Linked DNA regions of Homo sapiens: region 2 is linked to region 1. Evidence: fine-mapped expression QTL. A gene starts in region 1. The other region holds a variant in brackets. All regions are shown on one strand. Distances are from middle to middle.

The links.
Region 2: its variant is fine-mapped to the expression of GLYCTK in atrial appendage (GTEx, PIP above 0.99).

What each region holds. Positions count from the first base shown.
Region 1 is chr3:52,284,689-52,290,058 of GRCh38, reverse strand. GLYCTK (glycerate kinase) reads right to left here and starts at 2,231. Exons shown (of 5, transcript NM_145262.4): 1 at 2,183-2,231. It overlaps GLYCTK-AS1 (GLYCTK antisense RNA 1), which reads left to right and starts at 326. Exons shown (of 1, transcript NR_046719.1): 1 at 326-1,479. It overlaps LOC107986086 (a long non-coding RNA gene), which reads left to right and starts at 2,039. Exons shown (of 3, transcript XR_001740699.2): 1 at 2,039-2,226. RefSeq lists enhancers at 2,464-2,573, 1,400-2,599, 1,905-2,646.
Region 2 is chr3:51,774,392-51,779,761 of GRCh38, reverse strand. IQCF6 (IQ motif containing F6) reads left to right here and starts at 525. Exons shown (of 2, transcript NM_001368369.1): 1 at 525-609; 2 at 771-1,199. The coding sequence starts at 538. The coding sequence ends at 1,139. The region is part of intron 2 of LOC105377087 (a long non-coding RNA gene); the gene reads right to left. The variant A/C (reference allele first, on the strand shown) is at 1,966.

The sequences.
Region 1 (5,370 bases):
CTGCCTCAAGTCCAAAGTTCCTATTAGCTGGGCCCTCCTCCCAGGTCACCCCTTTGGCTGGGAGTTAATCATTGACAGAGGGAGTAATTTCTACCAGTGGGCTCCCATCCCACCCCTTTTCCACCCCCTGCACTTCTGCGCTGTTACCCTGGGGCAACGCCCCTTTCTGGCACTCCTTCCTTGCCTCTTTACCACCTCTGCTGCCAGGAAGCTGTTGATTGTCCCACCAACTGACCCTGAGCCCATTGACCTCCAGTCTTCTCTATTTCATTATCTCATGAGACTGGGATTAGGAGCCTGGGAAGTCAGGGTCTATAGGAGGCTGCAGGTTTATCAGGTCAAACCCAGAACACATCCTCAGGGCAAGCAATCTGAGGAATCTCAGTATGCAGGACCAGTTCAGCAAGAGGTTTAGGTTCAAATCAGGAGTGAGGGCAAAGTCTGGCTCATGGTGGAACCTTAGAAAAGTCCCCAGGCACCATGTGAGGCCATGTGCCATGAAGCCCAATTGCAGGACAGAAAAGGATGCCCTTCTACCCACACAGTTGGCCAGACCCAACCCTGCCAAGAACACGCCTTCTGGTTCCAAGATAACAAAAACAAGTCCTAGGTCACACCACCCACAGTGGTGAGAGCCCAAGGGCTGAAGTAGGCAAAGGCCAGGCTCCCATAACTGAGCCCATAGCCATTTTCCCCACTGGGCAGAGTAAAAGCTAAAGAAGCCTTGGGGCGAAGGTCAGGAAGCTGTAGAGGGGTATAGGAACAACAAAGACCCAAACAGCTCATCTGTACTACATATGTACTATTGCATCTACTTTAATAAATGCCTACCATAAATGTTGCAAGCTGACTTCATCAGCAAGTATGGACTGAGCAGGGTAAGGAGGCTGGGAATTGAGGTTCCAGCTCTACTATAGGCTTTCTGAGTGGCTGGGACACCTCCATTTCTCTCACTGGGCCTCATCCGCAAAATGAGACATGGGGTGAGATTAACACTACGCTCTTCCCTTAACAACCTCAGGCTCTCTGATACTGTCCACTGCAACACAGATCTCAAACACCGGTTTACCCCACACCCAAATATGGTGGTTACTTCTAGACTTTGACCATTTTGCTTGCCTAGTTCTCAGCTCTCCGGTAAGAAAAGACAGCCATGCCTGACTTCTGTTGTGAAAGGGAACACAGAGGGCATCGTCATGGGGATTCCGAAAATGGGTCCAGTTTTGGCCAGGGGGACCCCTGGAGCTTGCCCATTGGACTTGGAGCTAAAAGCATCTTAGCAACTAAGACAGCCGGTCTTTATAGCCTGGATGAAATTTGTATCTATTTCCCAGATGGACAAGAGCCTAGAAGATCCCAGCCTTGCCACTGGGTATGAGCACAGGACAGGGGGACGCTCAATGCTAAGGCTGCCAGAGAAAATACAGGACTTCCGGTTAAATTTGAATTTCAAATAAACAAGTAATTTTTAAAGTATAAGTATGTGCATACAATGTTTAGGACTTAACAATTATTCGTCGTTTATCTTAACTCAAATTTAACTGGACGTGGCCCGGCGCAGTGGCTCACGCCTGTAATCCCAGCACTTTGGAAGGCTGAGGCGGGCGCATCACCTGAGGTCAGGAGTTCGAGACCAGCCTGACCAACGTGGTGAAACCCCGTCTCTTCTAAAAATACAAAAATTAGCCGGGTGTGGTGGGCGCCCGTAATCCCAGCTACTCGGGAGACTGAGGCATGAGAATCATTTGAACAGGGGAGGCGGAGGTTGCAGTGAGCCGAGATCGCGCCACTGCACTCCAGCCTGGGTGACAGAGTGAGATTCTAACTCAAAAAAAATGTAACTGGACGCTTTGCATTTTTATTTGCTAAGTCCTCCAATTCTATCCAAGACACGGTCTCTCCGAAACTCCGGGAGGCTCCAGAGCAAAACAACGGAAATAGGAAGACTACCGGTCTTGACTCCTCCCCGCCATCAAAGAAGGCTGGTACCATTTCCGGCTTTCCCTAGACAGTAGGGGGCCGGAAGTGACGTCATCCTAAGGTAGGGCCTTAGCGAGGGAAATGGCTGCCGCGTAATGCCCGGTGATGCGAGAAAGAAGGGCCTGCTGCCACCAGGACCCGTCATCGCCCAGCCCAGGGACCGCTTCTGAAGGCCATGCGAGCCCTGGCGGCGCAGACTTACCAGCCCACAGCTCCGGCCGCGGTGCCCAGCGCTGGAGAACGGAAGTACTAGGGGGTGGGCGGAGCGGAAGCCGGAAGTGTGGGTGGGTGGAGCGGCGCAGGCGGGTGCGAGCTCTGGCTGAAGCCGGTGTCCGGGAGGGGAGAGTTTAGCATATTGGCTCTTTGCTGGCCACTGACAGACCTGGAAGGAGTCACCTTCAGTCCTCATTTTTTAAATCTCTACATTGAGGGTAATAATCCCCGCCTCACCGATTGCCGATTTTTTTTTTGAGACGGGGTCTCATTCTGTCGCCCAGACTGGAGTGCAGAGTCGCGGTTTCGGCCCAATGCAACCTCCGCCTCCCGGATTCAAGCGATTCTCATGCCTCAGCCTCCCGAGTAGCTGGGATTACAGGCATGTGCCACCACTCCGGGCTAATTTTTGTATTTTTTAGTAGAGACGGGCTTTCGCCATGTTGCCCAGGCTGGTCTCGAACGCCTAACCTCAAGCGATCCACCCACCTCAGCCTCCGAAAGTGATGGGATTACAGACTTCAGCCGCCGCACCCGGCCTCTCCCTTCCTTTATCCTGTACGGTCAGTCAGCAGATGCACCCTGAGTGTCAGGCACTGACTGGGCTGAGCAAACGAACTGAGAATCACTACTTCCCCACAACTCACCCCTTCTGGAGCCAGATTAAGTAATTCCCGCTCCTCTCCATGGCTTTTATTCCACAACTTATTATTGTTCTTCCCTCTCCCACCATGGGCCACCAAATACAGCTCTGGCTTAGCAAGAGTTCCATTCTGCGATCCTCAAGCACATAAGCGGCATGTAAACGCTAATGACTCTGGGCCTACCTCGCTGTCCCTACTCTCATCCGGGGCCTACCCTGTGTTGGCTGGATGCCTTCCCACATTCATAAGATGAGTCCTGATCAGACTCCAAAAATACAAAACAGTTCACTGTTTTTACTGATGTTTTCTTAGGGAGATAGAGGAGAGAGTTGCATCACAAATCACACACTTGATTTCCTAACAATTTTATTGAAACATGTTTCTTGGCAGGGCGCAGTGTTTCACGCCTGTAATCCCAACATTGGGGAGGCCAAGGTGGGCGGATCGCTTGAGCCTAGGAATGCGAGACCAGCCTGGGAACATGGCGAAACTTATCTCTACCAAAAAAAAAAGAGCCAGGTGTGGTGGCATGCTCCTGTAGTCCCAGCTACTCAGGAGGCTGAGATGGGAGGATCACCTGAGCCTGGGAGGTAGAGGCTGCAGTGAACCTTGATCACGCCACTGCACTCCAACCTGGGCCCCTGTCTCAAAAAAAAACCAACAAACAAAAACACATTTCTTTCTCTTGGTTTTGAGGTGGAGTCTTGCTCTGTCACCCAGGCTGGACTGCAATGGCACAGTCTCAGCTCACGGCCACTGCACTGCAGCCTGGGCACGATGTCGGCTCACTGCAACCTCCGCCTCCCAGGTTCAAGCAATTCTCCTGCCTCAGCCTCCCGAATAGCTGGGACTACAGGCGCCCGCCACCACGTCCAGCTAATTTTTGTATTTTTAGTAGAGACAGAGTTTCACCATGTTGGCCAGGCTGGTCTCGAACTCCTGACCTTGTGATCCACCGCCCTTGGCCTCCCAAAGTGCAGGGATTACAGGCGTATAAACAATTACAGGCGCCCGGCCTATATAAACAACCTTCATCTTTCCCCATGCTGGAGAACACTAATTGCCACTGCTTGGTGTCTGTGTTTCCCTGGATGGCTGCCCTCACACTTTATGCTTGAATAAATTCTTTTAACTGGATATCGAACCTTTTGATGATTTTTAGGTTGACATTAGAAATGTGTTTTTGGGACAGGTGCAGTGGCTCATGCCTGCAATCCCAGTACTTTGGGAGGCTGAGGCAGGTGGGATCATTTGAGGTCAGGAGTTCGAGACTGGCCTAACCAATATGGTGAAACCCCATCTCTACTAAAAAATACAAAAATTAGCTGGGCATGGGCCGGGCACAGTGGCTCACACCTGTAATCCTAGCACTTTGGGAGGCTGAGGCAGGTGGATCACCTGAGGTCAGGAGTTCAAGACCAGCCTGGCCAACATGGCGAAACCCCGTCTCTACTAAAAATACAAAAATTAGCTAGGCATGGTGGTGTGTGCCTGTAATCCCAGCTACTGGTGGGGCTGAGGCAGGAGGATTGCTTGAACCTGGGAGGTTGCAGTGAACCGAGATTGCGTGACTGCCCTCCAGCCTGGGTGACAAAGCGAGACTCCGTCTCAAAAAAAAAAAAAAAAAAGATTGTTTATATAGGCAAAAACAGGAGTGCTGACCAGAATTACAACATTTTCCAAAAAAAGGCTAACATAAATACAAGATTTGGTTGGCTACTATTGATTATACTGGAAGGAGTTTGCTTAACATTCTATTGTAAAGAGACAACAATCACAAGGGTCTCTATCTCCCACATCATCTAGTCTAAGTCTGAATGAAGAATAGGGAGCCTGGTTAATGTATAACATTTCAATACAAAGATCAGGAAGCAGCAGTCATGCATCAGAGAAGAAAAAAAAAAAGCAATGCCTGCTCAGTTTCCAGGGCTTCACTTTTCTCCTTCACATTATAAATTGGGAATGTCCTAAAATTTTATTTTCTTTTCACACCCCCTACCTGCTCCCTTTGGCAGTTGCTACATCTCTCCTTAGGTCTCCAAACCATGCTGTGCTCTTGTCATGAACCTTTCCCTTCCTCTGGCCCCCACTTCCAGCTCTCTCCCTGGATTTTTCTTTTTCTTATATATACATATATTTTTATTTGAGACAGGATCTCACTCTGTCACCCAGGTTGGAGTTCAGTGCCATCATCTTGGATTATTGCAACCTCCACCTCCGAGGCTCAAGTGATCCTCCCACTTCAGTCTCCCAAGTAGCTGGGACCACAGACGTGCACCACCACACCCAGCTAATTTTTTGTATTTTTTGTAGAGAAGTGGTTTTGCCATGTTGGCCAGGCTGGTCTCAAACTTCTGCGCTCAAACCATCTTCCTGCCTCTGTCTCCCAAAGTGCTGGGATTACAGGTGTGAGCCACCACACCCGTCCTTCTCCCTGGATTTTTCCTTTTAAAATATGAGACTTTGTATTCCTTCTCCTAAATGATTTCCCACCACATCATCAAAACAAAGGCATCCGTAGGTGGAATTGCCC
Region 2 (5,370 bases), 510 kb after region 1:
TTCCACCCCACTCAACAGGAGGTGAGTGACAGAGGGAGTAAGAGGGAAGAGAGACAGAGGTCCTCTCCAATTGCAGCTGAAATATCTTGCTTTCACAAATTTTACCCAAAAATATACAGCTCTGTAAACACGTTCCTCGGGCCCTGACAGGCGCCCTGACACTTAAGCTTCAGGAAATCCAAATTGGCTATGAGTAGAGGCTTAAAGTAAAACTCCTTCCTTGTAGGTAAGCTGCATGACTCTCTCTTCACTGCCATCAGGAGGATCAGGAATGCCACTGGGGCTGAGAAATAAACTGAAGGCAAGAGATAATGGTAGGCTCCCAAAGTGGTGGGAATCAATAAAGCAAAAGAGATGAAAGCAAGAGAAGAGGAGAGAGAAATGTGGTTAAAATGCGTGCAGACGGGACCTGATGAGGTAGAGTCTTGTGTGCAAGTGGGCGGAGTCCAATGATGGAGGTGTGACTAACAGTTGAGGGTGGGGCTAAAGACAAGGGTGGCCTAAGTGACAGATAAGTGGACCCTAAGGATCAAGGCCATGGACACGCAAAATGTGAGTAAGGCCCTTGCAGTAGGGACTTACCTGACAGGTAATGAACCGTGTCTAAATGTGAGTGGGGGATTGGAAACAAGATGGATGGGCCCTAGAAACAAGAAGTCAGGGGCACCTGGGCCAGGCCTTCTTTCCTCCCAAGATCAGAGATGGGGATAGGAACAGGAGGGGAGGGTCCCCCATTGAGCATCTCCCTGTTTTTCCTTTCCCCCAATCAGTTAGAGAAGACAGCCATAAAGATTCAGTCATGGTGGCGTGGAAACATGGTGCGCCGGACGTTACTGCAGGCAGCACTCAGAGCCTGGGTCATCCAGTGCTGGTGGAGGTCAATGCAGGCCAAGATGTTGGAGCAAAGACGGCGCCTGGCACTAAGACTCTATACCTGCCAGGAGTGGGCGGTGGTGAAGGTGCAGGCACAGGTTCGAATGTGGCAGGCCCGCAGGCGGTTCCTCCAGGCACGCCAAGCGGCCTGCATCATCCAGTCTCACTGGCGCTGGCATGCCAGCCAAACCCGAGGCCTGATCCGGGGCCACTATGAGGTCAGAGCCAGCCGGCTGGAGCTTGACATCGAAATCCTCATGACCTAGGGCGCTGACAGAGCCAAGGAGGCTGGATCTCTCTTCCAATAAAGACCCTTACTGACCATACACTTGCCCTTTGGAGATTAGACTCATGGAGGAGGGTTCAGCCTCTAAGTTTTCTGCCTTCCCCCCAGAAAGATTCCCTGGTGTGGTCTAGAGCCCCTGTCCTCAGGTCACCAACCTAGGCCCCTGTTCCTAACAGCATACCGGGACAGTCTTGCATCCAAGAGAGACCCCAGGGCCCAGGTCAAGCAATGATGCCTCAGTCAGCCTGATTTTGGCCCCTTCCACAGTGGGAGTAGGCATTGGGCTTTAGTTTCCTGCAGCCCCTGTCCAGGCATCTCCATTCAGATCAGAAGATCAGAGAATCTGGCTGCAGCCAGGGCCAGCTGGGAAGGCCAGGATTCCACAGGCCTGTGCTTGGCAAGGCCCTCAGGGCCGGCAGAGTGCTTGGCAGGGAGCCAGGAGGACATGGCACTTCAGCTGGGCAACAGCAGGACAGACGCTGTGCCTTATGGTGGGGAAGGGAGTCAGGGAGCAGCCAGCCAGAGCCAGCCCCTGGGGAAGCCAGAGCAGGAGCTGAGGGCAGCAGCTGTGCCTGCCGCCTGCCCACCCTGGGGCTGAACAACAAGGCTTCCCTCCCCTCTGCTGGGCACTTCCTTGGAGAACCAGGCATGGGATCAGGGAGGGGAGAGAGACTTGGGGGCTGTGGGGGGATGGTTGTGGGGGTGGCATGGGGGCAGGTAAACAAACAGAGGACTAGGGATAGGCAGGGGAAAGGGTTGTCCCTCTGCCACTGGAGGTCATTGGGCACACAGCCTCTAAATCCTAT[A/C]ATGTCCTCAGAAGCAGCTGTGCTCCTCCTCCACCCCCATGTCCCCTCTCTGGCCTCCCCCCAGGATGCCTCACCGTCTGCTGGGCCTGCCTTGGGTGGGTGCTGCTGGGCTACTGCTTTGCTAAGTCTCTCTCTGTCTCTGGGCACCTATGGCGCAACCATCTCTCATGTGGTCTCTCACTGTCTCTGGTTTGTCATCCATGCCCAAGGCCCCTCACTCTCAGCTTGTGTCCCTCAGATGTTTGTGTGAACCTCCATCCCAGAAGTCTGAGGTCTGCAACCCTCCGCAGGGTTTTTCCATGGTGGGCCCTGCAGGAGCGGTGGGAAGGGAGGTGTGCAGGGGTCTTCATGCCTTGCAGCTGGGTGACACTTTCCCTAATCCGTGTGTGTGTGTGTGTGTGTGTGTGTGTGTGTGTGTGTGTTGGGGGTGAGTCTCCAGAACAGCTGTAGCAGATGTGAGGGCTCAGGGTTCAGCCTGACACCCATCATCTGCAGTAGCTGCAGGTGGCAGTGAAGCAACTGGGTACCTGGACTTTCTGACTGAATCCCGCTCTTCCAAGGGAACCCATTCAGTGGTGCTGGATACAGCTCTGCCCACCTCCTACTCACAGCAGCAAGTGGTATGAAACTAGATAGGTCTGCAGCTGGGCATAATAGGAACTCTGCATGACTAACCCCTTAGGTGCTACCCCAAGAGTGAGAGGTGTTTAAAACCTGGATTGGCAATGGTTTAAGTCTCTGAGTTATATATTTTCAACATAGGACATTGCAATCCCCTAGGACACTAAAAAAAATAATGATACCTGGATCCACCCAGGGATTCTGCTTTAACTGGACGGGTATGAGGCCTGGCATCAGGATTCCAAAGTGCAGTCTTGGTTTGGGAACTGCTGAGTTAAGCCCTTCTCAGCTGGCCCATGTAGTCCCACTTGAGGATGCTCTACAGAATTTCATGCTGAACACAGGAGACAGGTCATCAAGGCTTCCTGCTCTCTGATATGCTAACAATGCCAAGTGAAATAGGAATCCAGTGGGAGCACCACTTTGGGTCAAAAACTTTTGGAAACAGGAAGACACAGCTTGGTAGCTGGGGGCTGAATGGGAGGGGCTTTTGAGGGGAACATGAGTGAGACCTCTTGTCCCAGATAGACAGGATCTCAAGAAGATGGCACCACCCAACTGTGAGCAATGAGACTCAAGGGCTAGCCCAAGAAAGCCAAGCTTCATCCAAAGCCTTCACCACCACTCCACTTTGGGTGTCCTGCTGGTGGTCAGGGGCCTTAAGAAGCTAGGGATGGTCGGGACCTGTGGGCAGTGGGCATTGGAGAGCCCCAAGGAAGAGGAGGTGAGTGAGGCATGGGATGGGAGTCAGGAGAAAGACTCCTCTTTAACAGTGAGGTCTGTGGCCAGTGTTGGCCTAGATCACTGGAGCCACTCTCCCCTCCTCAGTAGGGGTAAGGCTGCTGGTGGGACTCTCAGAGGCAGACCTCAGAGGCCCTTCCTGTCACTCCTTACTATTGCTGAGGATTGAGCTGCAGGAGGAACTCTTTCTGAGAACACGTATCATATGCTGAAACACTGAAGTGTAGAAGGGGAGGCTGTGCTTGTGGCTTTGGGATGGGAGTAGATCTCAGAGCACTCTAGGGGGACCGAGTATCCTCAATCTTGCTCCTCCCTCAGATGACATGGTGTCCCCAAGAGATATGTGCCCACAGCCCTCCCATAAATAAAGAATTGCATTGGCCCTCACACTGGCCCAGCCTGCTGAGGCCCTAAGAAGGTAGCTCAGTAAGTGAGGGCCCATCCCCTGCAGTTCTCTTCCACCAATGGGAAAGGATTCCCAGATGGCATCTCATCTCTTTGTCCCCAGGGTGCCCACCCTATGCTTTCAAGCCTCCCACCTGATACATCACCAACCTCAGCTCTGACCACACAGCCCCAGGGTCTCCAGAGCCTTGTCTTTTGCTTCTTTGTGTCCCACGTGCTAAATCCAAAATGAGATGACCACAGCCACCGCCATGCCATGCCAGGCAGTTTGAGTGGACTGACCAGCATCCCGCTGACCACACATACACCCATGTTACAGGAGGGCACCACCCTACTCCATCCCCACCCTGCCAGGGTGGAAATGCTTAGTGTGAAAAAGTCGATCAGCTTTGTTTCAAAAAATTGAGTTTGCTCAAGTCCACAAGTTAGTGGAAGCAGGCACTTATGTAGAAGAGCTACAGTGGGTTGAAAGAAAAAATGTTTCCTGGGCACTCTCAAAGCTGTGCTTTCATATCAAGTGTCAACAAATAGCTTTGCATAGAGTTTTACCTTTAAAAAGGTGACCATAGATTTTGAGAGTGAAAGGTGCAATCTTGATAAATACATTGGAAATACCAAGTGCAAACCATGACTGTCCTGGGAAAACCGGGAGGTGTTAGCAGCCTATTGGTAAGCCTCCGTGTGCAGAGGGTGGCAGGAGGTGGGGGTTGGGGTAGAGGGCAGAGAAATTTCCAGCTACACAAGAAGAGACAAAAGAAAAGCCCATGCATGACCCTGAGAAAGAGTGTGAGGAGGCTGAGGTACTGCTGCAGCCTGCTGCCTGCCCCTGCCCTCCACCTCTTTCCCTTGTGTCACCCCAATAGGCAAAGGGAGATCTGAGAATATAACCTGGGGAGACTGCATAGCTCAGAGATGAAAGGAAGCAGAAGCCAAGGGAGATGCCTAAGTGATGGGTCTGGGGACAGCTCCCACTGAGTCCTGTACACTTCCCTATGGAGCACGTAAGTAGCCAAGATCCCTGGGATCCCCAGATGGGGGAGGCAAGAAGTGCCAAGAGGACTGGTGGTCCCAAAGAGGCCTGAGATAGAGACAAGAAGCCACAGACTATAAAGACCTTGCCACCTGAGGCCAAGGCAGGGACCATGGGCATTGCAGAAGGTGAGTTTAGGTCAAGGGGTGGAGCACAGAGAGGTCCATTTCTCAGAGGTGGATTGAGGATAAACAACATGTCACCCATAACAGCAGCAGAACCGGTTGCAAGAATCAACCCAGGGTTGGGAGCAGTGGCTCACGCCTGTAATCCCAGGACTTTGGGAGGCCAAGGTGGGAGGATTGCTTGAGGCCAGGGGTTCAAGACCAGCCTGGGCAGCATTGTGAGACCCTGTCTCTAGTATCTCTCTCTCTCTCTCTCTCTCTCTCTCTCTCTCTCTCTCTCTATATATATATATATATATATATATATATATACACACACACACACACACACACACACATATATGTATATATAAAATATGTAATATATATATAGATATCAACCCAGGAGGAGAAAGTGGGGGATGTGAGTGGAGCATGATTGGCTATGAGTTGATCATTGCTGAAGCTGGATGATGACTACTGTCTGTATTTTTGGATATGTTT